Linked DNA regions of Homo sapiens. The protein of the gene in region 6 purifies or fractionates together with the protein of the main gene of each other region. This does not show direct contact. Each region holds a gene or a part of one and is shown on either strand. Other genes may lie near its edges.

Region 1 (3,500 bases), on a different chromosome or scaffold from region 6:
TGAGGTCTGGAGTTCAAGACCACCCTGGCCAACAGGTGAAACCTGTCTCTACTGAAAATACAAAAATTAGCCAGGTGTGGTGGTGCACACCTGTAATCCCAGCTACTTGGGAGGCTGAGGCAGGAGAATTGCTTGAACTCGGGAGGCGGAGGCTGCAGTGAGCCAAGATCATGTCACTGCACTCCAGCCTGGGCAACAGAGCAAGACTCCATCTCAGAAAAAAAAAAGGAGGACAGAATAGGAAGACATGAAAAATTATCTCAAATGTAATTAGAATGTCCCAGTTTCCTTTAACCTCAAGTACACAACTATGGAGTGGTAAGATATACAGGGACAGCAGTGAAAGTCAAAGCCTCCTGATGAAGGAGTAGGAATCTCCTATGGCTGCTGTAACCAAATTACACAAACTTTGTGACTTAAAACAACACAAATTTATTGAGTTTCACTGGGCTAAAATCAAGGCGTGAGCAAGGTTGCTTCCTTCTGGAGACTCTAGGAAAGAATTCATTTCCTTGACGTTTCTAGCTTCTGGAGGCCGCCCACACTCCTTGGCTCATGGTCCCTCCTCCTTCCTCAAAGGGCATCACTCCAACTCTGCCTCTGTCATCACATCTCCTCTGACTCTGACCCTCCTGCCTCTCCTATAAGGACCCTGTGACCACATAGAGCCCACCTGGATAATTCAGGGTAATTCTCCTTTAACATACTCACATCTGCAAAATCCCTTTACCCATGTAAAGTAACACACCACAGGCTCCAGGGATTACCACATGGATTACCAACTTCAGGGGCCATTATGCTGCCTACCGCAGAGGGGAAGCTGATTTAACCCAGTTTAGAAAAGTCAAATACAAATGAAACCTCTATACCTCTATCCCATTCCTTTTTGCTCTTCTATGTTAGAAAATCACTTCAACTTATGTTGGCTATTGGATTTGTTTCTAATACATCATTCCACTAGAAGACTTTACAACCACGTGAGAAAAAGAAATGCAGCCCCTGACATCTGGGAGCTGGCCTGGTAATATCACAGCTGGGCCTTGGTGTTGCTGTAAACTGGCTAACAACTCAGAGCAAGGCACACACCTAGGCCTTGATGACTGACTCTTCTGCTGAACATCAACAATTTCAGAGAACATCAATATCAGACAAGACCATGATGGATAAAGACTAAACAAGACCACTCTGTAATCACTCCTGAACACAAGCAAAAAAAAAAACATGAACATTGTCCAAATCACAGAAATGACCAACTCTCTATCCTGGCTAACAGGAATGACTGTTGCTTCTTTACCAGTTACAGCTTTAGCTTTATTCCAGTCTTCTTTCCTTCTAGAAAAGATTTCTTAAGCTATCCAGTTACAGAATTTTTCCAGCTTCCTAACAGCACCCCATACAGATCAAAGCCTCACTTCCTTAAACCCTTCCCAAACTACCTAGTAGAAGCCCAAATCCCATTTGAAAAGTTACTGAAACACCCCACAGTTCCCCATGGAACTCACTGAAATATGCAATAAGCCCAATTTGTCCAACTACAGGTGTGCTCTTGGAGGTCTTTCACTGGAGGGCAATGACAAAGGTCAGAAGACTACAGACTCCAAGATAACTGCATTCTGAACTTACATACAAGATTGGTGATTGGTTCCCACCTTCTGCCCAACCACTATTCCCAAGTGGGAAGGACTAAAGTTTTTTATCTCCTGCATAAAGGGTAAGCCATAGAGTTGAGGGCAAGACACCAGTAGAAAACAGCAGGTAAACTCATCTAGAGAGGCAGTAGATGAAGGATACTTCTATCCCCATTATCTCCCCACCTCCCATTTGGCCTAAAAGGAGCCAACTAAATGGGAAGGTTCTAAAATCTCTGTTGTGTAAGTCCCAGTCTGGCTGGGCACGGTGGCTCATGCCTGTAATCCCAGCACTTTGCGAGGCCGAGGCAGGGGCGGATCACCTGAGGTCAGGAGTTCAAGACCAGCTTGGCCAACATGGCAAAACCCCATCTCTACTAAAAATACAAAAATTAGCCAGGCATGGTGGCAGGCGCCTGTAATCCCAGCTACTTGGGAGGCTGAGGCAGGATAATCACTGGAATCTGGAAGGCGGAGGTTGCAGTGAGCCAGGATCGCTCCACTGCATTCCAGCCTCGGTGACAGAGCGAGACTCCGTGTAAAAGAAAAAAAAAAAAAAGTCCCAGTCAACCCCAGACTTGGTTCCAAAAATATTCTAGCCAAGAGGGGAGCTTAAGCCATACCCAGGATAAGGAAGAATTTAGATTGCGCAGCCAGGCCAGGCATGGTGGCTCACACCTCTAATTCTAGCACTTTGGGAAGCTGAGGCAGGAGGATTACTTGAGGCCAGGAGAGTTCAAGACCAGTCTGGGTAACACGGAAATAACCCGTCCATACAAAAATGGCCAGACGCATTGACTCACACCTGTAATCCCAGCACTTTGGGAGGCCAAGGCAGGAGGATCACTTGAGGTCAGGAGTTTGAGACTAGCCTGGCCAACATGGTAAAACCCTGCCTCTACTAAAAATTCAAAAACATTAGCCGGGCATGGTGGCAGGCACCTATAATCCCAGCTACTGGGAGGCTGAGGCAGGAGAATCACTTGAACCCGGGAAGCAGAGGTTATCGTGAGCCGAGATTGTGCCACTGCACTCCAGGCTGGGTGACAGAGACTCCATATCATAAATAAATAAATAAAATTAGCCAGGCATGGTGGTGGCACCTGTAATCCCAGCTACTCAAGAGGCTGAGGCACAAGAATTGCTTGAACCCAGGAGGTAGAGGTTGCAGTGAGCTGAGATAGTGCCACTGCACTCCAGCCTGGGTGACAGAGTGAGACTCTGCCTCAAAAAAAGAAAAAAAAAAAAAAAAAGACTTCCTTCAAGTAGGAAGATCTCTTGAGCCTGGGAGATAGAGGCTACAGTAAGCCGTGTTTGTGCCACAGCATTCCAGCCTGAGTGACGGAACCACACTCTGCCTCAAAAATAATTTTGTAAAGAGTCACAGCCTACAAGGTGGCAATCCTGATAGCTGGGAAGCATCCTCCCGCAGAGCACAGAAACAGACCTTCAAGGGAGGATAGAACAGGGATTTATGCTGAACGGGTTGGCCAAGTTTATATATTTAACAGGTTATAGGAGGAGCTATGAATATTCACAAAGTGGGGGAGGTCATGCACATGCAGGCTGAATAAACATGTATGTTACATACTTATCCATATTCACTTGTGGGTGGAGACTTAACATCTAAAAGGATTACAATGAGGCCCTGTAGTCAGATGGCGAAGCAGGGACATGAAGGCACTGAAGTGCACAGCCTCTGTAAACTGGCCAGAACCAGTTCATGCTCAGTGCTCTTATCAGGAGAAAGTTACTGAAATCAGTCTCTTGTCCAATCAAAGCTATAGTTATGGCTTGTGGAACAGGAGAGTGGGGATCACTTAGGGTCTGGCAGTGAGTGAGCTGCAGTTATCTTAATATTGCTTATCTGGA
Region 2 (4,191 bases), on a different chromosome or scaffold from region 6:
CACCAGGAGAAGCACCTCCCAAGGAGGATCTATCTGAGGCCTAGAGGCCTGGAGCTTGGGGTGAGGAAGAGGGAGGGATGGACAAGTCTGAAAACCTCACAACTCCTTACCAAGGCTCCAGGTTGGGGGGATCGTAGGATTAGAGGGGCTAAGGATAGTCAGCGAGCTGGACTGGGGTAAGAAAGAAAACCAGATGTCCTAGGGCCTAGCCCTTGTAGTCAGAACCACCAGGGAACAGCAAAGAACAGAGTGATGGGAAAGTGACATGAGAAGGCCTGGAGGCTGATTCTGATATAGACTCAATAAAGTTTTTGGATGGAAGCAATTGCTTTTTCTTGTCAAGGGGATGGGGGCCTGGGAGAACTGATTTCTGTCTGATGGAGCAGCTAGGACTCCAAAGTTTGGACCCTGGCTCGACCTGTGCAGCAACAGGAGCCCACATCTGTAAGGATCAGAAAGCAAGAACCCAATGTAAGAAGCAAAGGAAAACAAGAGGCCCCTCCAGGTTGAGATTCTTTATTCTGGAGGTAGGAAGGGGGTCAGCATGCTCAGGTGGGAAGGGTCCAGCCCAGCTCCTCCAGCCCCCCAGTGCATGCCCAGCCCCAATAAGTTACCCAGTTACTCAGCTGCCCTCCCTCCTGGGTCCATCTGTCCTTCTGTTCCACCCTAGACAGGGCCAACCTGACTCAACACAAGGGCTGCTTGTCCCCAGCCTGTGGGCAGTGCCACACGGCAGGCTAGGGGAGGGGTGAAGCAGCAGGACCATGCCCTGGGCCTGGAGGGGCAGAGGGGCCACTTCTGGCTCCAAGGGTCAGGACTTGGAAAACCACATCCTGGGCAGGCCTGGGGCCCAGTCCCACAAGGTCTGTGCCTGAAAAGAGGTGGTAGTTGGGGTGGGGCCGCCATCACACCTCAATTGCTGGGTCTGAGCCCCGGCCCTGCCGCTGCAGCTGCTCCTCCTGCTTCATCTTGGGCTTCTCTGTCCGAGTATGCCACACCAGTACCTGTGCCAGGAGGGATGCAGTGAGAGCCAGGCCCAGCTGCAGCCAGGCCTCTGGGTCCCCGAGCCTGGAATGGATTCTCTAACCCTATCGACATATACAGTATAGGCTTCAAAGTGTAAAGGGCAGGGTGGAGGAAGACTTAGTGCCTCTAAAACCGGGCCTTGGCCGGGCGCGTGGCTCACGCCTGTAACCCCAGCACTTTGGGAGGCCGAGGAAGGCGGATCACGAGGTCAGGAGATTGAGACCATCCTGGCTAACACCGTGAAACCCCGTCACTACTAAAAACACAAAAAAATTAGCCGGGCGTGGTAGCGGGTGCCTGTAGTCCCAGCTACTTGGGAGGCTGAGGCAGGAGAATGGTGTGAACCCGGGAGGCGGAGCTTGCGCTAAGCCAAGATTGCGCTACTGCACTCCAGCCTGGGTGACACAGCGAGACTCTGTCTGAAAAAAAAAAAAAAACAACAAACAGGGCCTTATTCCTTCATCCTCTCTGTGCCACATGGGTTCCCAGAACTCGGGGCAGAGTGGCAGGAGACCACTTTCCCCCGCTAGTTCCCAGCTTCCCCTTCAGTAGAGTCAGCAAGGCTGATCAGAGATCTGGAGAGTCCCTCCTGGTTAAACCACCCATTCCCAGGGTCTCACTGTACCTCCCCCATCACCTGTCCATCCAAGAGCCAGGTTTCTATGCCCATCTCCATTCCCTTACCCGAGTGCAGTTGGCAGCCCGTGGCTCCAGGTCCTTGGGATCCACAAGGTGGCTCAGAAGACTGCTCTCCAGGTGGCCCCGGGGAGCGGTGGAATCAAATTGGGCATTGGGCTTATCTAACAGCAAGGGCAGGGCCACGGCAAATCCAGCCATATCCACAGGGAAGGGCCTGCTGGGCTCCCATGCTGTGTGGAAGCCCACTACCCGGCCGTCCTGTACCTGAGGGCCCTCGAATCGCAGGCCGCCCACCAGCCCCACAGGCCACACTGAGACACCACGGGTCCAGCGCATCTAACGGAGGTCGGGAGAGAAGAAACAGAGGGGTGGTCCGGGGAAGGGAGCAGCAGAAAGAGCCACCTGGCTCACTCTGCCCCACTGCTTCCAGCCCCTCACCCAGCAGCCAACGGCAACACTGCTAACCAAGGTAACGAATGAAGCTGGCCGCACCTGGTCTCTTGCCCATCCCCATCCTGGTGCTCACCTCCTCAAACAGCTCCCGGCTGTAGGTGTTGTCATCGTCAGCAAAGTAGACGACTCCTTGGGTCCCTGGTGGTGGTGGGTCCTTCTCCCCACCCACAGCACCCCCTCTGCCCCGGAGCCAGTCCAGGGCCTTGTTCCGCTGCTCGACACCACGGGGATGAACCCAGCCAGGCTCGCCCTCCCGAAGCCGCTGGGCTTTGGGCGTGAGGACCACCAGGTGTGTGAAGAGGAGGCCAGAGGCAGCCAGCAGCCCTGAGACCAGCGGGGTGGGACCCTCAGCATCCTCCACCAGCAGCCAATGCAGCCGGGGCACCAGGCTCAGTGTCTGGGACAGTCGTACCAGCTCTGCCTTCTGTACCAGCCTGCAGGGGAGAGATGCAGCACAAGGAAAAGGGGCAGGCACCATTTGCCTGCTCCAGCCAGGGCAGACAGCTTCTCCTGGGCCACTGCCTGCGTCTCCTGTGGCCCTTCCCAACCAATGCCTAAACTCCCTCTTTCTTGCCTGTCAACTTCATGCTAACACTCACCTGCCCTGTTCTTCTGGTCCATGTCCATCACCCACCTCAACTCCAGAGCTCAGGCTGTGGGAGACTATAAATTAAGGGCACAGGGCCGGGCATGGTGGCTCACACCTATAATAACACTTTGGGAGGCTGAGGCAGGTGAATTACCTGAGGTCTGGAGTTCCAGACCAGCCTGGCCAATATGGTGAAACCCCATCTCTACTAAAAAAATACAAAAATTTGCTGGGTGTAGTGGCACATGCCTGTAATCTCAGCTACTTGGGAGGCTGAGGCAGGAGAATCGCTTGAACCTGGAAGGAGGAGGTTGGAGTGAGCTGAGATCGCACCATTTCACTCCAGCCTCAGTGATAACAGCAAAACTCCATCTCAAAAAAAAAAAAAAAAGGCCGGGCATGTTGGCTCACGCCTATAATCCCAGCACTTTAGGAGGCCGAGGTGGGCGGATCACCTGAGGTTAGGAGTTCGAGACCAGCCTGCCCAACATGGCGAAGCCCCGTCTCTATTAAAAATACAAAAAATTACCCAGGCATGGTGGCAGTCACCTGTAATCCTAGCTACTCGGGAGGCTGAGGCAGAAGAATCGCTTGAACCCGGGAGGCGAAGGTTGCAGTGAGCCGAGATTGTGCCACTGCACTCCAGCCTGAGCGACAAGAGCGAAACTCTGTCTCAAAAAAAAAAAAAAAAAAAAAAAAAAACAAATTAAGGGCACAGGCTTTGGGATCAGGTAGATCTGGGTTTGAAATCCAGTTTTGTAACTTATTATGTGAGACAATTTGGGAAAATGGCTCAATCTCCCTAAGCCTCAGTTTCCTCAACTGTAAAATGGGAATAACAGTACTTTATAACAATGTTGTTTTAAAGATTAAATAAGAGCTGGGGATGGTGGCTCACACCTGTAATCCCAGCACTTTGGGAAGCTGAGGCAGGTGGATCATGAGGTCAGGAGATCGAGACCATCCTGGCTAACACGGTGAAACCCCATCTCTACTAAAAATATAAAAAATTAGCTGGGTGTGGTGGCGGGCACCTGTAGTCCCAGCTACTTGGGAGGCTGAGGCAGGAGAATGGCGTGAACCCGGGAGGCAGAGCTTGCAGTGAGCCAAGATCACGCCATTGCACCCAGCCTAGATGACAGAGCGAGACTCCATCTCAAAAAAAAAAAAAATACAAAAGTAAAATACAAAAAATTACTGGCCAGGCATGGTGGCTCACACCTGTAATCCCAGCACTTTGAGAGGCCGAAGCAGGTGGAACACGAAGTCAGGAGTTCCAGACCAGCCTGGCCAACATGGTGAAACCCCATCTCTACTAAAGATACAAAAAATTAGCCGGGTGTGGTGGCGCATGCTTGTAACCCCAGCTACTCGGGGGGCTGAGGCAGGAGAATTGCTTCAATCCGGGAGGTGGAGGTTGCAGTGAGCCGAGATCGTGCCATTGCACTCCAGCCTGGGCGACAGAGTGAGACTCCATCTCGGGA
Region 3 (4,188 bases), on a different chromosome or scaffold from region 6:
AATCATGTATTTCTTTAACTCCTAAGACAAGTACTGTTAACATTTCATTTTGGGGGATATTACCCCACCATTCAGGAAGCAGATGGAATACAGAAAGCTCAAAAAAATCTAACTGGTCTTCTGGCTTCCTCTGTCTGCTTCCAACCCATTCTCCACAAAAAAAGTAAAGGTTCTCTTAAAACAGAAATTGGATTATATTGCTCCCCTGCCTAAAACTGTTCTATGGCTATCCACTTCAAACAAGCATCAACATCACCTAGAAACTTCTCAGGAATGCAAAATCCCACCCTGCCCCAGACCACTGAATCTAAAACTCTAGGGATGGGGCCCAGCACCTCTGTTTTAAGAAGTCATCCAGGTGATTCTGACGCAAGCTAAAGTTTGAGAACCATTGTGTTAAGCTAACTGCTTTCTATGTATGATGTTATTTAAACCTGGCAATTCTTATGTATTGTTGCCAGCAGAGTGCAGTGGTTAAGAGCAGAATCTGGAGCTAGGCTGAGTTTCAATTCCACCTCTCCTAGCTTTGTGATATTAGGTCTTATTTCTTTATCTGCGACAGGGATAGTAATAGCGCCTATAGCCAGCACGGTGGCTCACTGCCCATAATCCCAGCACTTTGGGAGGCCAAGGCGGGCGGATCACTTGAGGTCAGAAGTTCAAGACCAGCCTGGCCAACATGGTGAAACCCCGTCTCTACTAAAAATATAAAAATTAGCTGGGTGTGGTGGCGCACGACCGTAGTCCCAGCTACTCAGGAGGCTGAGGCAGGAGAATCGCTTGAACCCAGAAGGCGGAGGTTGCAGCGAGCCGAGATGGTGCCACTGCACTCCAGCCTGGGCGACAGAGCGAGACTCCGTCTCAATTAAAAAAAAAACAATAATAATGATAATAGCGCCTACCTCATGGGGTTGTTGTGGAATTAAACATCATCAGTAAGGTGCTTAGAACAGTGACAGAACCTGGATTTTAATCTCCCTTGGCCTCCAATAGCTGTGCATGCCCCAGGACTAGGTAACGGCCTTGCCCAGGACGGGTATGGGGCGGGTGGTGTGTGCCCTGTGTCCAAGGGTTGCAGCCCCTCTGACCCTGGCGTGCCCTGTGATCTGGTCCAAGGTGCTAGGCCTCTGACTGGAGTCGGGCTTGCCATCGGCGGTGCTGGGGAGCGGGCTGCTCTCGTGCAGGCAGCCCCACCAGCCAGCCGGGCTGCGAAGCTGCCTAGCACGGTCTGAGCATTCGCCTTACTCGCTGGCTGCTTACACCCCGACGCCGCTGCCGCCACCGCCGCCGCCGCCGCCGCCGCCCTAAGCACCGCCCGTCGCCCTCTCACCCCGCGGCAGCGGCGGCGGCGGCGGCGGCGGAAGCGGGGGGGCGGGCCAGGCCGGGGCGGGGCCGCAAGCGGCATGGAGGAGGCGGAGGCCGCGGCGAGCCGGGCCGAGCAGTGAGGGCCCTAGCGGGGCCCGAGCGGGGCCCGGGGCCCCTAAGCCGTGAGTGCCTCCGCGTGGGTGTCCGGAACGGGTAGCGCTGCCGGTGCAGGTCTCCTGAGCCCTCGGGCGGCTCCGGGCCCTGGGAGGAGGAGAGAAGCTGGGGCAGATAGGATGGGACGAGGGTTGAAGACTGGGGCAGGAGAGGTCGCTCTTTGCTCACCACAGGCTTGGGAAGGCCTGGAACTTGGTCCTTGTAGGGGCTAACGAACTTTGAGCCGATTATTTGGCCTCCACCCTTGGACAGCCTTGATTCAGAGAGTTACTCCAGTCTCAGGGAATTTCCAGGTGATCCAACCCCACTGAAGGGTTTCCTGCCAGCCCAGAGAAGTTGAGCCACTTTCCCCATGTCACACAGTATGGGTGCTTGCAGGGAAGAGTTGCTGGGAGGTCCTCCCTCATCTCCCCAGAAGGCATCAGACTTTGGGAGGAGCATCTTACCCCATGTGGCCCTCTGGTCCCTTCAGATTCCTGAAGTCATGGGCTGGCCAGGACATTGGTGACCCGCCAATCCGGTATGGACGACTGGAAGCCCAGCCCCCTCATCAAGCCCTTTGGGGCTCGGAAGAAGCGGAGCTGGTACCTTACCTGGAAGTATAAACTGACAAACCAGCGGGCCCTGCGGAGATTCTGTCAGGTATAGAGATGTCCCAAACCCTCCCCACCGAGCGCTCCCTCCCAGCTTCCTCCCCACCTAAATCAGGCACTGGGACCCCTGTTGGCCAGCCCCAGTGGGAAAGGGGCAGCAGGTTCCTAGAGGGGAGACCTCTATGTGTCATGTCCCTATAGGTAATGATTTGAACCCAAAGTTCTGGAATCGGAACCCAAGTACAACTTCTAAGCTTCTGACGGAAGCCTGAAGTCTGATCAGGCTGGCTTTGCAGAGAGGCACACCCCTGTGAGGCAGTTAGGGCCAGGACCCAGGTCTGATCCCCCGCTTGGGTCCCTGGGCCTGGCTCCATCTCTAGAAACCAACAATGGAGGGGACCAAGGAAATCAAGGTCTCAAATAGAAGAATACAGGAGCACTGGGTAGGGAGGGCCCTAATGGAGGGGGAAGTGTCAGGGGAGGTTCCCTGGGGAAAGTGGCTGTGAAACTAGGCCCTGGTCAGGGGAGTAGAGCTAGGCAGACAGAGGAAGGGACAGGACCCAGTTTCTCTGGATGTCTTCACTGCAGCCAGGGCCCTCCTTTCAGAAAGACCCTCTAGGATCTGAAGGAGGTGCTCCTCTTAATCATCCCTACCCCTCCCCTCAGACAGGGGCCGTGCTTTTCCTGCTGGTGACTGTCATTGTCAATATCAAGTTGATCCTGGACACTCGGCGAGCCATCAGTGAAGCCAATGAAGACCCAGAGCCAGAGCAAGACTATGGTAGGGCTAGGCTAAGGATGGGGTAGGGGGCCTTGGATCTCACAGCTGGAGTGGCAGGCAGACCCTAAGCGGTGAGACTCTGCTGAGGAGACTATCTCCATGACCTGTTGTACCCCACAGATGAGGCCCTAGGCCGCCTGGAGCCCCCACGGCGCAGAGGCAGTGGTCCCCGGCGGGTCCTGGACGTAGAGGTGTATTCAAGTCGCAGCAAAGTATATGTGGCAGTGGATGGCACCACGGTCAGTGGGCCAGGGTCTGGTGTACAGTCACTCTATTCTGCTCAGGGCATGGTCCACTGGCAGCAGGGTCTACTGCCTAAGTGGGAACTGCAACTCTGCCAGTTTCTAGCTGTGTGACTTTGGAGTCCTCGATTCCTTATCTATAGACTGGGACTAATGATTTCTACTTGTCAGGATTCAATGAAAAGTTTGTGAAGTGTCTTGTATGTAGTGGGATCTCAAAAGTAATCATTCATAATAGTAGGCAGTCAATTCATTGATTTATTTTATAACCATCCCCTGGTCCTTTCTTTGGCCTCAGCCTTGTGCTGGGCACTGGGGACCTGAAAGTAATCAGACCTGGCCCTACCTTGAGGGGTTCAGTGTGGTGGAGGATTGTGATACTTCCAGGATGAAGCAGAGACAGCAGAGGCTCTAAGAGCCATGAAAGTCATGGAGGGGAGGGTTGTAGAAAGACGTGATCTCTTCTGATGGGAGTGCTATAGAGGCTTTCTGGAAGAGGTGGCCTTCGAGCTGAGTTGGAAAAGAACTGTGTGAACAGAAACATAGGCAGGAGGTGATGTTTCAAGCAGCTGGTGTTTTAAGTACCCCTAAGACAGAGACACCTTGAATGCCAGAGTGAAAAGCTGGACTTTGTCTCTGCCACTGTGTAGGTGCTGGAGGATGAGGCCCGGGAGCAGGGCCGGGGCATCCATGTCATTGTCCTCAACCAGGCCACGGTGAGTTTCTAGGGGTGGGTGACCCAGAGGGCTGGAGCTGGGCTCTTGCTGATGACACCAACTCACCAGAAGTATATCCCCTGCCAGGGCCACGTGATGGCAAAACGTGTGTTTGACACGTACTCACCTCATGAGGATGAGGCCATGGTGCTATTCCTCAACATGGTAGCGCCCGGCCGAGTGCTCATCTGCACTGTCAAGGTCAGTTATTCTGTCCTGACCCTGACCCCTACTCCCTAGCTCCAACCCTGCTTCTAGCCCCGGCTTCTCTGCCCCTCATATAACATAGTGGGAAGATTCTCTGAAGGAAGGTTACTCAGGTTCCAATCTCAGCCTTAACATTTGTATTAATTCAGCAAATAGTTATTGAGCAACAG
Region 4 (3,007 bases), on a different chromosome or scaffold from region 6:
GATATTTTCCAGACCCTGCACTCCATGGATCGGCTGGCATCACCCAGATCCATAAACTGGTTCATCTGATCTTGTGGCCCCCAACCAGAAATTGACTCAGTGCAAGAGGACAGCTTCGACTCTGTGATTTCATCTCCAACCCAACCAATCAGCACTTCTGACTCACTGACCCCCCCATCCCCTACCCCCTACCCACTAAGTAATCCTTAAAAACCCCATCCCTGAATTTTCAGGGAGACTGATTTGAGTAATAATAAAACTCCAGTCTCCCATACAGTTGGCTCTGTGTGAATTAAGCTCTTTATTGCAATTCCTCTGTCTTGATAAATCAGCTCTGTCTAGGCAGCAGGCAAGGAAAACTCATTGGGCGGTTACTAATTCTCAAAAAATGCTGCCAAGAGCCTTTCTAGAAAACATGGCTTATATTATTTGGTTGCTTTTAGTCTATAGAAGAAAAATGGCCTTGACACTTTAAGAAGCTAGATTACTTATTTTGTTTTATTTTATTTTTATTTATTATTATTTTTTGAGACAGAGTCTTGCTCTGTCACCCAGGCTGGAGTGCAGTGGCATGATCTCGGCTCACTGCAACCTCCACCTCCCGGATTCAAGCGATTCTCCTGCCCCAGTCTCCCTAGTAGCTGGGACTACAGGTGTACTCCACCACGCCCGGCTAGTTTTTGTATTTTAGTAGAGACAGGGCTTCACCATGTTGGCCAGGCTGGTCTCGAACTCTTGACCTCAGGCGATCTGCCCATCTTGGCCTCCCAAAGTGCTAGAATTATAGGCATGAGCCACCATGCCCAGCCAAGAAACTAGATTATAAAATGGAAGGAGAAACAGTGATTAAGTGAAGAATTAGTAAAGAAAAAATATTAGGAGAGTGACTTGAATTGCAAGACAGTAAAACAGTGCAGTATTAGAATAGGAATGAATACATTGGAACAAAATAGCCTAGAAACAAATCCAAGCATATCAAATACTTTCAAAGTTTGAATACTGGAGTCAGATGTCCAAGTCTTTATCTGAACACCACCACTGCCTGTGTGACTTTGTGCAAGTTATTCATCCATTCTGTGTCTCAGTCCCCACACTGAGGGATGCTGTAATAACATGGGAATGATAGCAATACTACCCACCTCTAGGTAGTGGGAGAAGTCAGTGAGTTAGTACAGGTTGAAACAGTGCCTGGCACAGAATAAGCAATAAGCAAATGTTAGCTATTGTTAATTATTATTGTTTTTGTTGTTTTGATACTGTTTCAGATCATTGGGGAAATGATAAATTTTTCATAACCAGTGCTGAGAAAATTGGCTAACCATTTAGAATCAAATAATTTTGATCACTAGAGCTTACACCATATATCAAAATAAAATCCAGATGGATTACAGACTTAAATTGAAACCTAAAAGGATTAGGAAATGTTAGTGAATATTTACCTAATATTAAAGGGGGTAAGAAATTTCTAAGCATATTCGTTAACACAGAAACCTTAAGAGAATGAGAGATTTAACCACTTTAAAAAGCATGCACTTCTTATACCAAAAACTACCATAAGCAAGATTAAAAGGCAAATGGCAAGCTGGATAAAATATCTAGAATAATGGGCAAGAAGTTAACATACAGAGAGTGTTACAGATTAATAAAGACATACCTCAATAGCGAAATGAGAAAATTCTACGAAAAGGTAAATCACATGAAAAACATGATTACAGATGATCAATAAAACTTTGAGCAAATGCTCTCTTACAAGTAATAAAAATGCAAATTAAGGCATTAAGATGCCATCTTTGTGCATGACTCAGAAACATTTTTTTAAATGCCATCTTGGTGGACTAATTAACTAGATTTGTTTTGTTTTGTTTTGTTTTTAAGAGAAAATACAATTCTGGAGATGAACGGGGGAGCTGGTACTTTACTGCACTGGCATTTCATCCGATCTACCCAGTATTCCTTCCAACTTCTGACATCAAGTTTTTTTCTGTGTATTTTTTCCTCTACACTTTAACCCTCTGTATATTTTAATCACTGATTGATGAATATGTTGAACTGAAGATGACTGTGGACAGAAATCCATATCATGCATATTCTTGGGTTTGATTTCAACTCATCAATAATTGTTAATGAGTTGATATCAACTGTGCATAGCCATTCAGCTTGTTTCTAAGCCCACATACAGCTCTCATGTCCCCACATTGTCCACAAGGACATTATTGTTATTATGCGTGCCATATTTCCCTGACCAATTACTGACTCTGTGCAAGAAGAAATGGAAAGCAATCTGACCTAATCTGCTCTTAAAGCTCCTGACTCCCGGGAACTGCTGTTTTTTCTACCAGGGATACACAAGCCATCACTTGAAGACCTTGCTTTGCCTTGACTTCAAGTTACCATCATCTACACTTCTGGTGGTTCTTCCTTTGTACAAAGTTCCTTGTTCTTTGCTCATCTCTAGTCCTCTTACATCTCTCCATTTTCTTCAAGGTTTATTGAAGATCATTTGCAATGGTTTATCCATCTCATGTGAAAATTGTATGAACCTGCCAGAATACGCTACATCCATGTTGGAAGACTTGAACCTATGTAGGGTAGCAAGCTCTTTTCTTTCTTCTAACTATCCCCTCACAAACGAAGAGGACAAAAGCTAAGTAGGAGTTAAGGAAGCTGACTTTCACTTGACCATCCACCAGCAGGATCTACCTGGGCACAACTATTCCTTACTCTAGACATAGTATTGGAAAATGATCTTTATTTATTCTGCATAGCACAATTTGGGTTTGGCTCCAGGAATGATTCTTGCTGGTAGATCAGTTCCTGGTTATATGTCTTTTTGTCTACTTTGCATATATACTCTAAAAATCTGAGTCAATCTAATCAAGAGTGCTCACAAGTGTTGCCACACAAGCTTCTTTAGAGACTTTCCTCATTAATTCCTTAATAAGAAAATTTACAACTGGCAAATTTGAATTGTATTTTTTATAGCCTCACCATCCTTTGGTTACCCTAC
Region 5 (3,343 bases), on a different chromosome or scaffold from region 6:
AGGTTCAAGCGATTCTCTTGCCTCAGCCTCCCTAGTAGTGGGATTATAGGCACCCGCCACCATGCCCGGCTAATTTTTGTATTTTTAGTAGAGATAGGGTTTCACCATGTTGGTCAGGCTGGTCTTGAACTCCTAACCTTAGGTGATCTGGCCACCTAAGCCTCCCAAAGTGCTGGGATTACAGGCATGTGCCACCGCAGCCGGCCGAGGCCCACTGGCTTTTGAGGTTCCCTCTCCAAGAGGTCACCAGTGTCCATGGAGGCTGCACCATTCAATCCGGTTGCCTATCGTGACTGGGCTCTCTGACTCCACAGCCTGGGTCACAAGCTACCATGGGCACTGAATGAGGGAAGCTTGAGGCATCTGGGCCAAGTGGCTGGGTCTCCTCTCACCAGGGCAAGTGTCTGTCCAGGCATCACAGTGAAAGACACGTCCTGCAGAGTCTCCCGCCTGCAAGGAAAGGTGGGGTTGCTCAGCAGGCACCTTCCATCACCAGAGCTGCTAGTAGGCCCTGCCCCTCCCCTGCCCAGGCTCTTTTCCAAAAGCAGGGATTCAGAGCACTGAGAAGCAGGAAGGCAGTGTGCAAATGAACGGAAAAGCAAAGGAAGCAAAAGGAAGGCCTCACCCATCGGCATAGCTGAAGTGCACGTTCTCAAACTCAATACGGCCCTTCTGAAAGCGAAGGGGCCCTGCTCCAGGAAGGTCCTTCACCTGGAAGGGCACCACCCATGTGTGCTGAGGTTCTCAGCTTTGTGTTTTCCAAGCACGAGAAACACCACACAGCTCCTCCCTCCCCAAACCCTACTCCTCTCCCTTCGCTCACTTCTGTCTCCTCTTTCAGCAAGTCAAACATGTTCTCCATGTCAATGAAGTTGGTCTGGATCATCCTGCAAAAAGGTGCTGGTTAGGACTTCTCTGAGTAGCCAGGAAATAATAATGTGCCCTGGACAGGTGAGGGCCAGGGCTCAGATTACCTGTAGTAGGTGCCAAACCAATTGAGGGGCATGTACAGCTGGATAATGTAGGTGCCAAAGAGCACATAGTCCCCAACCTGTGGCAATCAAGGAAGCAGAGCATGTCACGGGGGGCCTGCAGGCCGCTCTTCTTGTGTCACCCTGCCCACTTCCTACCGAAGAGCCTGGTGACCAGACACAGGCCTCAGGCCCCCTTTTCCTTGTGCCCCACTCTCTCATCCAAGATCCTGCCTCACCTGTAGCTTCTGCTCAGTGACAAAGTATGCGCAAAGCAGGGAGCCGGCGAGGAGCCCGAGCCCAATCACCAGGTTCTGGGTCTGATTTAGTAAAACCAGTGAAGCGCTCGACTTCCACTCCAAACCCTGAGGGCAATAACACAGGAAGAGGAATGTCCTATACACAATGGCCATCAGTGAGTCCAAACCTGGGCCCAGGCCCCTTCTACCCCAACACTCGACTATCACTCTTGGCCCTGAAAATTCTACCAGGCCAGGGCATTATTCTCCGGAGGCCTCAAACTAGCATCCTCACCTGATATTTGATGATGGCCTCTCGATAGCGTTCCACTTCGTAACTCTCGGCGTTGTAATACTTCACCTGATGAATTCAAACCAAATTTATTTGGCATGGGCACAGCACATGGCACTCGGGTCATTCCCCCCAACTCTCAATCCTCCTTCCTGAGTTCAAACATCACACACAAACATCACACCCCCAGCTCTCTGTCAGCCCCAGTGGTCCTGGTTACACTCCTCCACATCTCCACGCCTCACACCACTGCCACCGGGCCCTCTGTTACCGTCTCGAAGTTTAGCAGAGAGTCCACTGCTCGTGCCCGGGTAGCGTTCTCCTGTGTGTTCATAGCACGACGAAACTTGGTTCTCCACTCAGTGACCACAATGGTCAGGGCTGGAGAGTGACAGGATGGGGAGCAGAATAGGACATCATCCCCAAAAGCAGAGACCAAATGTCAATGTCCACTACCTGCCATGTACACACTAAGCCTATGCTCAAGCCCGGACACCCAGATTCCACAGGGAGGCACCTCTGCAGCCTGCACAAAGTCTCATGTGTAGAAAACGCTTTTGGTAAATGAAAGCAAGCTGCATCTTGTTACACAAACGAGGCTTCCTTGACCTGTGTCCACGGCTCAGACTTAACGTGACAAGAATGTCCTTCCCCAGCCCCTCAGCTAGGTTAAGGTTTGATTTGACAGAAGAGACCCGCCCATCACATGACGAGCACTAGGAGCCCATTCAAGTCCACCAATCCACAGCCTCCCATAGGTGGGTCACTTGAGTGGGGGCACAGCTCATGGCCAAGGGAGTCCCTGGATAGTTCAGGGAGACGGTGTCTCCCAGCAGCACTCACTGAGGTAAAGACTCATGCACAGGAACACAATGAGGCCAAACCAGGCGTTGAAGAACATGCTGAAGTAGATGATGCCAATGATGATGTCGGCCAGCGTGGGGATGACATTGAACACCAGGTAGCTAGGAGGGCAGGTCAAGTGAATAAGAAAGGTCTGGGGGCTTAGACCCAGCAACCCTGCCTCTAGGCATTTCAGGGTAGTGTTTTATTTTCAAGCAACAGACTGGAACCAGTCTTAATTAATTCTACCCTCAAGAGGTGGGTGGCTAAATCAACCATGCTCAAACTACAGAATTCTCTGTATCAATTACAATGAATGAGGGAGACCTTCAGGCATGGAAGAAAAATATATCTCCATAATGTTCTGTTAATAAGCAACTCTGAGAATGATGGCTATGTCACAATACCATTTGTTTTAGGAAAAACCTCCACAATGCCATATTAGTTCTGTGAGTCTGCATATATAATATGTATGTAAAAATGCAAAAAAGCAGAACCCAGCTGGGCACAATGGCTCACAACTGTAATCCCAGCACTTTGGAATGCTAGGTGGGCAGATCACATGATGCTAGGAGTTCCAGGCCAGCCTGGCCAACATGGTGAAACCCTGTTTCTACAAAAAATCTAATAATTAGCCAGGCATGCTGGTGCACATCTGTAATCCCAGCTACTCAGGAGGCTGAGGCAGGAGAATTGCTTGAACCCGGGAGGCAGAGGTTGCAGTGAGCAGAGATTATGCCACTGTACTCCAGCCTGGGTGACAGAGCGTGACCCTGTCTCAAAAAAAGAGCAGAACCCAACATACTAAACAGAGTGGGAAGCTCTGAAAAAGTAAGTGCAGCTCGAAAGAGATTTGCCCTCTGCCCGCATTACCTAAGTTATTAGGAGAGCATGTATACAATAATCCTATACTTTAAAAAACACCAAGGTGGGAGCGGCAGCTTCTCAGGCGGGGTCTGTTCTCTTCCTCCCACGGGCCCCTATCCCTGCTTCTCCGG
Region 6 (3,170 bases):
ATTTCATTTCCTTTGGGTGTATATCTGGAAAAGGGATTGCTGGCTCATATGGTAGTTCTCTTTTTAATTTCTTTAGGAACCTCCATGACGTTTTCTATAATGGCTGCACCAAACTGTGTTCCCACCAACTGTGTACAAGGGTTCCGTCTTCTCCACACTCTCACCAATGCTTGTTATTTCTTGTCTTTTTGATATAGCCATCTGATATGGTTTGGTTGTGTCTCCACCCAAATTTCACCTTGAATTGTAATAATCTCCACATGCAAAGGGCAGGGCCAGGTGGAGACAATTGCTTTATGGGGGCAGTTTTCCCCATACCTTTTTTTTTTTTTTTACTTTATTAAAATACTGAGTTTTATTTCACGTGTATACTTTTGTCTCCCCACCATTTCCATGTCTGACCACTGCTACTACTATGTCCTATCATAGCATCCCATACATACTTAAAACCAAGCAAAGGGTGGAGTTCCATCTTTAAAAACTAAACAGGCATTTTGGACAACACATTCTTGGCAATAGAACCTGGACAACATTTATCAAACATGGTAGGGAAAGTTCTCACTCTGCACTATAAAAAGGACAGCCAGATATCAACTGTTACAGAAATGAAATAAGATGGAAAATTTTTAACAAATTGTTTAAACTATTTTCTTAAAGAGACTTCCTCCACTGCCAGAGATCTTGAATAGCCTCTTGGTCAGTCATCCAGAAGAAATTCTTCACATAATTGATGAACTTGGTTTCCACTTTGGGAAGAGAACCACGTTTTTCTATACTTGCTTGCATTTTTGCTTTAATGTCTTCTACAGAACTAGATCCTTTTGGTGTTTTAGGAGATTTTTCCTGTTTTTTGAAGGATTCTTGTCCTTTTGATCTTGGTGTTGATGATGGTTTTGAGTCTTTTCCATTCTGATTTGACTTTTGTGCATTTTTGGCTGGAGTATCTCGTATAGATTTCTTCACTGGCGCTTTTTCTTCAGCTTCCTCGTCATCATCATCATCATCATCTTCATCATCATCATCATCAGCAGCAGCAGCAAGTTTTACTTTTTTCTGCCCACCTCCAGGGGCAGACTGCTTTCCAGATATACTTAAGAGTTTCACATCCTCCTCTTCTTCATCTTCTGACTCTGCACCTTCCTTCACAGCTACTAAGTGCTGTCCACTAATATGCACTGGCCCTGAACCACACTTCAACCTTAAGTCCACTGGTGGTGTTATTTCAAAGCCCCCAAGAGAAACCGTTGGCTGTACAGACATTTTCAAAGTTGCCAGTGTTACTTTAATTGGACTGCCTTCGTCATTCATGGCCTCTGCTTCAACAATGTGCAGTTCATCCTTTGCACCAGCCCCTGAGCTGACCGTTCTTAAAGATAACTGGTCTCATTTTCATCATTATCCACCTTAAAGTGATCATCTTTGTCGGCCTTTAGTTCACAACTGAAAAGATAGTTCTGGGGCCTCAGGGGGCTCATGTCCATGTCCATCGAATCTTCCATCGGGTGGCGACACACACTTAGGTAGGAGACAAGGCAGACGAAGATAAATGAATGCTGCTCCAGAGAACAGCCGCGCAGGACGGAATCACACCAGGGAGCCCCATACTGTTCTTGTCTCAAGATATCTGATGGTTGTATAAATAGGAGTTCCTGTGCACAAGTCCCCCTGCCTGCCACCACATAAGACATGACTTTGCTTCCCATTTGCCTTCTGTCATGATTGCAAGACCTCCCCAGCCATGTGGAACTATGAGTCAATTAAATCTCTTTTATTTATAAATTACTCAGTCTCGGGTATGTCATTAGCAGTGGGAGAACAGGTAATATTAGCACCATGAAAACAGGTAATATTTTACTATGATTTTGATTTGTATTTTCCCAGTTATTAGTGATATTGAGCATATTTTCATATACCTGTTGGTATAAGAAATAAATTCTTTGCTCATTTTAAAATGGAGTTATCAGTTCCAATATGCTTCTAAAGATTAGTTGGGGCTTTGCTGTAACATCTAGACATGTATATCTGATTTGGAACAAATCCACTTCCTCTCTGTGTAGTGCCTGGCACTACTGGCACCTTTGTCATTCAAATAGGCACACTCTCCTGCTCCCAGGATAGGAAACCTGCAAGAGAAGAAGCAGAATCAGTTGGCCACTGAACATTTCTTCAACAGCAGAGAGAATGAAGATGAGAAAATGAGAAAACTAACATTAATTCAGCCTCTAAAAATAATGCTGTTTTTCCTTGTGTAGTGGTGACTAATTAGTCAGTGGGCTTTGCTTAGCAGGAGATGTTATAAATCAACTATAGGAATACTGCAAAGTCCTGAATCAAACCTATTTCATGTCTGTAAGCATAATATTCTTTCAAGTACATCCAAAGCCTTAGCTGGCTGATGGGAGAAGTCTGACACGTTTTCTTTACACAGTTTCCCAATATTTTGCTTCCTTAAATAACTGAAGACTCAGCAGCTATTTCTAAAAACCATGCTTGATTTTATTCCTCCTACTTCCCTGGTGGTTTTAGTACTGAAACTGCAGTGCTATTTAGCTGAGTTTAGATGGCTTGGCACAGATATTTTAGGTCAGCATTTGGATTATAAATTTTTCCTCTTTGCTCATTGGAATCACTATCATCTATGATATAATTTGCTAATTGTTGAAACTTGTTAGACCTTAATCATATAATATTTTACATTTCTTTAAGTGATGAGCAGTTTCCAAAAACTGGTTAGTTAATAATATATTTGATCCTTAAAATATTTTGAGAGGCCAGGCATGGTGGCTCACACCTGTAATTCCAACATTTTGGGAGGCCGAGGTGGGAGGATTGCTTGAGCTCAGGAGTTCAAGATCAGCCCAGGCAACATAGTGAGACCCCATCGCTGAAAAAAAAAAAAAAAAAAAAAAAAAAGCCAAGCAAGGTGGCACACACCTGTAGTCCCAGCTACTCAGGAGGCTGAGATGGGAGGCTCACTTGAGCCAGGGAAGTCAAGGCTGCAGTGAGCCACGATGGTACTACTGCACTCCAGCCTGGGTAACAGAGTAAGACCCTGTCTCTCAAAAATACAAACAAACAAAAAACCATTTTAAGAATTAGGTAGAGAAAATTTACTACTTCCGTATTGTAAAATAAGAAATAAAAGTTAATTCTAGATATTTATGAAGCAG
Region 7 (3,018 bases), on a different chromosome or scaffold from region 6:
CAGGCTGTATGCAGACTGGGGGTGGTAGAGGAGTGGGCCTGCTTCCCTAATTTAGAACCTTACGCCCTTCCTTCAGGAGAAGAAGCCCAGAATCCCCAGCGTTCCATCCCGATGGGCATTGTGATCTCACTGTCTGTCTGCTTTTTGGCGTATTTTGCTGTCTCTTCTGCACTCACCCTGATGATGCCTTACTACCAGCTTCAGCCTGAGAGCCCTTTGCCTGAGGCATTTCTCTACATTGGATGGGCTCCTGCCCGCTATGTTGTGGCTGTTGGCTCCCTCTGTGCTCTTTCTACCAGGTCAGTATCAAATGTTTGTTTTCTTCTGCTGTCAGAGTCTCAGGTTATAGCATTCAGTACCAGAGAATACCCCTTAAAAGGGCTGTGAGGGGAAAGTGGAGACTCTTTAAACATACAGTCTTGGGAAGAGAGATCCCAGTCAACTCATGCCACCCTGGGCATTCTCCTCTCCAGCCTCCTGGGCTCCATGTTCCCCATGCCTCGGGTGATCTACGCGATGGCAGAGGATGGCCTCCTGTTCCGTGTACTTGCTCGGATCCACACCGGCACACGCACCCCAATCATAGCCACCGTGGTCTCTGGCATTATTGCAGGTAACAGACCCTCTTTCCCCTTCCCTTAGTTGTTTCGCCAACTTCTTTAACTTTGCCACTCCCTTCTCTCATTTCTTGTTTCCTGCCTATTAATTTTAGCATTCATGGCATTCCTCTTCAAACTCACTGATCTTGTGGACCTCATGTCAATTGGGACCCTGCTTGCTTACTCCCTGGTGTCGATTTGTGTTCTCATCCTCAGGTGAGACTCTTCCTCTGCATACTGTGATTTGGATTTTTATTCTTGGATGAGGAATGATGGAGATCTGCTCCTCTTTCCTCCTTCGCCTTCATTATTCCAACTTTCTTTGAGGAATCTGGGTATCTCACCCTGCCAAAAAGAACTTCCCTTAATGGTGATGAGGAAGGTTAAGCTGCCTGGGAGAAGATGATAAAGTGAGTAAAGGTTGTTCTTAATACTGCCATCTTACTTTTGCCTCAGGTATCAACCTGATCAGGAGACAAAGACTGGGGAAGAAGTGGAGTTGCAGGAGGAGGCAATAACTACTGAATCAGAGAAGTTGACCCTATGGGGACTATTTTTCCCACTCAACTCCATCCCCACTCCACTCTCTGGCCAAATTGTCTATGTTTGTTCCTCATTGCTTGGTGAGCAGTGGAATTTTTCTGGGGTGGCTCTGAGATCAGCGTGATTGGGTCGAAGTGTGTGGCATTTGGTGGCTGAGGAAGAACTAGAGAGAGAGCGACTCTCCTTGGAACAGGGTTTCTAATGTCTTAGCATGTTGGTCTTAAGAGTTGGTTTTGATGTCTCTCAACTTGACCTTTGAAGCTGTCCTGCTGACTGCTCTTTGCCTGGTGCTGGCCCAGTGGTCAGTTCCATTGCTTTCTGGAGACCTGCTGTGGACTGCAGTGGTTGTGCTGCTCCTGCTGCTCATTATTGGGATCATTGTGGTCATCTGGAGACAGCCACAGAGTTCCACTCCCCTTCACTTTAAGGTAAATGAACTCTGTCTTTTTTCCTTGCCAGCCCATCTTGGGAGAATAGGCTCCAGATATCTTGAGGTCTAATAAAGTTCATAGATATTCTTTAATTGAACATGAAAGGGAAGATATAGGAGGTACCTAGGCCAAAGACTTCTTCTCTGACCCTCTTTAGTTCCTTTCCAGTTCCATTTACCCAAACTGCATATTCTTGGAGTCTCATGAGGTATGCTAAATGAGCAGCTACTGAAATGCAGAGGACAAGTAAGAGTTGGACTCACCCTTTTCTGGCCTGCATAGGATAGGGATCTCTTTCTAGGTCAACCTGTGGTATGTACAAAGAAGATTTTACTTTGTTTTCAGGTGCCTGCTTTGCCTCTCCTCCCACTAATGAGCATCTTTGTGAATATTTACCTTATGATGCAGATGACAGCTGGTACCTGGGCCCGATTTGGGGTCTGGATGCTGATTGGTAGGTATCCACTTGGGAAGAGTAGGCTTCTTTGGTGTCCTAGCCCAGCTCCTTTCCCTCTTGGTCTCAAGTAGGAAACCTATGAAGCCTTTACACCCCCACCTCACAGCTACCTTTCCCCACTAGGCTTTGCTATCTACTTCGGCTATGGGATCCAGCACAGCCTGGAAGAGATTAAGAGTAACCAACCCTCACGCAAGTCTAGAGCCAAAACTGTAGACCTTGATCCCGGCACTCTCTATGTCCACTCAGTTTGACATCGTCACACCTAAATGCTGTCTGGTCCCCTGCACAATAATGGAGAGTACTCCTGACCCCAGTGACAGCTAGCCCTCCCCTGTGATGGTGGTGGTGGATACTAATACAGTTCTGTACGATGTGAAGGATGTGTCTTTGCTATTTCTTGTCTATTTTAACCCGTCTGCTTCTAAATGATGTCTAGCTGCTTACCAACTTTAAAAAATGATATTAAAAGAAAGTAGAAAAATAAACTGTGTCCTGTTTTTTGCTTGCTAAAGATGTAGAGCCTGACTTTTAAGAGTGAAGAGCCTCAGAGAAGTGTCCTTTGTGTTTTCTTCAGTTACCACAAAAGCATCTGCTGTGCCTGTGGGTGCTTCTTGTTGAATCAGGGTTTGAGGAGGGTGGTGTAAGTAGGTAGCCATCCAGTCCAGTCACACTTAAAGGAATGGTCTTGAGATATGTTTTCCCCTCATTACACTTAAGGTTAGGTTCTGGATAAGTAGACAGCAACACTTGTCTCTGGGATTTGGGGTGGACTCTGATAGCAACACTGACATTGGTTAGGGCCTACACTGAAACTATTGGCTTCTGTTCCACCTCTTCTAGTTGGACCAGTCCCACACTCCTGTAACTGCCTGAGCATCAGAAATTTTGGCTGCGGTGTTTGGCACTGCTGGGAGGAGGGGTGGATAGTCAGGGGGTTTGGTAAGGGACCACATATATTAATATATGGATACTGTTTGCTGCAGAA

Evidence for each region.
Region 1: the proteins of CLEC2D (region 6) and LMBR1 purify together in Homo sapiens (affinity purification with mass spectrometry; 2 studies listed by BioGRID and IntAct, with this or other methods). This does not show direct contact.
Region 2: the proteins of CLEC2D (region 6) and B3GAT3 purify together in Homo sapiens (co-immunoprecipitation; 2 studies listed by BioGRID and IntAct, with this or other methods). This does not show direct contact.
Region 3: the proteins of CLEC2D (region 6) and POMGNT1 purify together in Homo sapiens (affinity purification with mass spectrometry; 2 studies listed by BioGRID and IntAct, with this or other methods). This does not show direct contact.
Region 4: the proteins of CLEC2D (region 6) and SUSD1 purify together in Homo sapiens (affinity purification with mass spectrometry; 2 studies listed by BioGRID and IntAct, with this or other methods). This does not show direct contact.
Region 5: the proteins of CLEC2D (region 6) and ABCB6 purify together in Homo sapiens (affinity purification with mass spectrometry; 2 studies listed by BioGRID and IntAct, with this or other methods). This does not show direct contact.
Region 7: the proteins of CLEC2D (region 6) and SLC7A3 purify together in Homo sapiens (affinity purification with mass spectrometry; 2 studies listed by BioGRID and IntAct, with this or other methods). This does not show direct contact.

Annotation. Positions count from the first base shown.
Region 1 is NC_000007.14:156,883,184-156,886,683, forward strand, and holds part of LMBR1 (limb region 1 protein homolog), read right to left. Parts: intron 1-3,500. UniProt on the Homo sapiens protein: Putative membrane receptor.
Region 2 is NC_000011.10:62,614,796-62,618,986, forward strand, and holds the end of B3GAT3 (galactosylgalactosylxylosylprotein 3-beta-glucuronosyltransferase 3), read right to left. Parts: intron 2,553-4,191; coding exon 2,192-2,552; intron 2,002-2,191; coding exon 1,711-2,001; intron 1,446-1,710; coding exon of another isoform or gene 1,391-1,445; exon of another isoform or gene 1,005-1,390; coding exon 906-1,004; 3' UTR 501-905; downstream 1-500. Other genes in the region: ROM1 (rod outer segment membrane protein 1), read left to right, coding at 1-44. UniProt on the Homo sapiens protein: Glycosaminoglycans biosynthesis. Involved in forming the linkage tetrasaccharide present in heparan sulfate and chondroitin sulfate.
Region 3 is NC_000001.11:46,195,635-46,199,822, reverse strand, and holds the start of POMGNT1 (protein O-linked-mannose beta-1,2-N-acetylglucosaminyltransferase 1), read left to right. Parts: upstream 1-1,388; 5' UTR 1,389-1,487; exon of another isoform or gene 1,488-1,772; intron 1,773-1,951; 5' UTR 1,952-2,001; coding exon 2,002-2,121; intron 2,122-2,273; exon of another isoform or gene 2,274-2,461; coding exon of another isoform or gene 2,462-2,515; intron 2,516-2,738; coding exon 2,739-2,853; intron 2,854-2,973; coding exon 2,974-3,092; intron 3,093-3,333; exon of another isoform or gene 3,334-3,522; coding exon of another isoform or gene 3,523-3,621; intron 3,622-3,745; coding exon 3,746-3,811; intron 3,812-3,898; coding exon 3,899-4,012; intron 4,013-4,188. Other genes in the region: TSPAN1 (tetraspanin-1), read right to left, coding at 3,523-3,621. UniProt on the Homo sapiens protein: Participates in O-mannosyl glycosylation by catalyzing the addition of N-acetylglucosamine to O-linked mannose on glycoproteins.
Region 4 is NC_000009.12:112,043,291-112,046,297, forward strand, and holds part of SUSD1 (sushi domain-containing protein 1 isoform 2 precursor), read right to left. Parts: intron 1-3,007.
Region 5 is NC_000002.12:219,212,616-219,215,958, forward strand, and holds part of ABCB6 (ATP-binding cassette sub-family B member 6), read right to left. Parts: intron 2,468-3,343; coding exon 2,346-2,467; intron 1,884-2,345; coding exon 1,774-1,883; intron 1,572-1,773; coding exon 1,506-1,571; intron 1,337-1,505; coding exon 1,211-1,336; intron 1,052-1,210; coding exon 975-1,051; intron 888-974; coding exon 824-887; intron 712-823; coding exon 626-711; intron 451-625; coding exon 393-450; intron 1-392. UniProt on the Homo sapiens protein: ATP-dependent transporter that catalyzes the transport of a broad-spectrum of porphyrins from the cytoplasm to the extracellular space through the plasma membrane or into the vesicle lumen.
Region 6 is NC_000012.12:9,693,713-9,696,882, reverse strand, and holds part of CLEC2D (C-type lectin domain family 2 member D), read right to left. Parts: intron 2,124-3,170; coding exon 2,009-2,123; 3' UTR 1-2,008. UniProt on the Homo sapiens protein: Receptor for KLRB1 that protects target cells against natural killer cell-mediated lysis. Inhibits osteoclast formation. Inhibits bone resorption. Modulates the release of interferon-gamma. Binds high molecular weight sulfated glycosaminoglycans.
Region 7 is NC_000023.11:70,925,079-70,928,096, reverse strand, and holds the end of SLC7A3 (cationic amino acid transporter 3), read left to right. Parts: intron 1-76; coding exon 77-299; intron 300-473; coding exon 474-613; intron 614-712; coding exon 713-815; intron 816-1,055; coding exon 1,056-1,222; intron 1,223-1,403; coding exon 1,404-1,570; intron 1,571-1,918; coding exon 1,919-2,027; intron 2,028-2,153; coding exon 2,154-2,284; 3' UTR 2,285-2,518; downstream 2,519-3,018. UniProt on the Homo sapiens protein: Uniporter that mediates the uptake of cationic L-amino acids such as L-arginine, L-lysine and L-ornithine. The transport is sodium ions- and pH-independent, moderately trans-stimulated and is mediated by passive diffusion.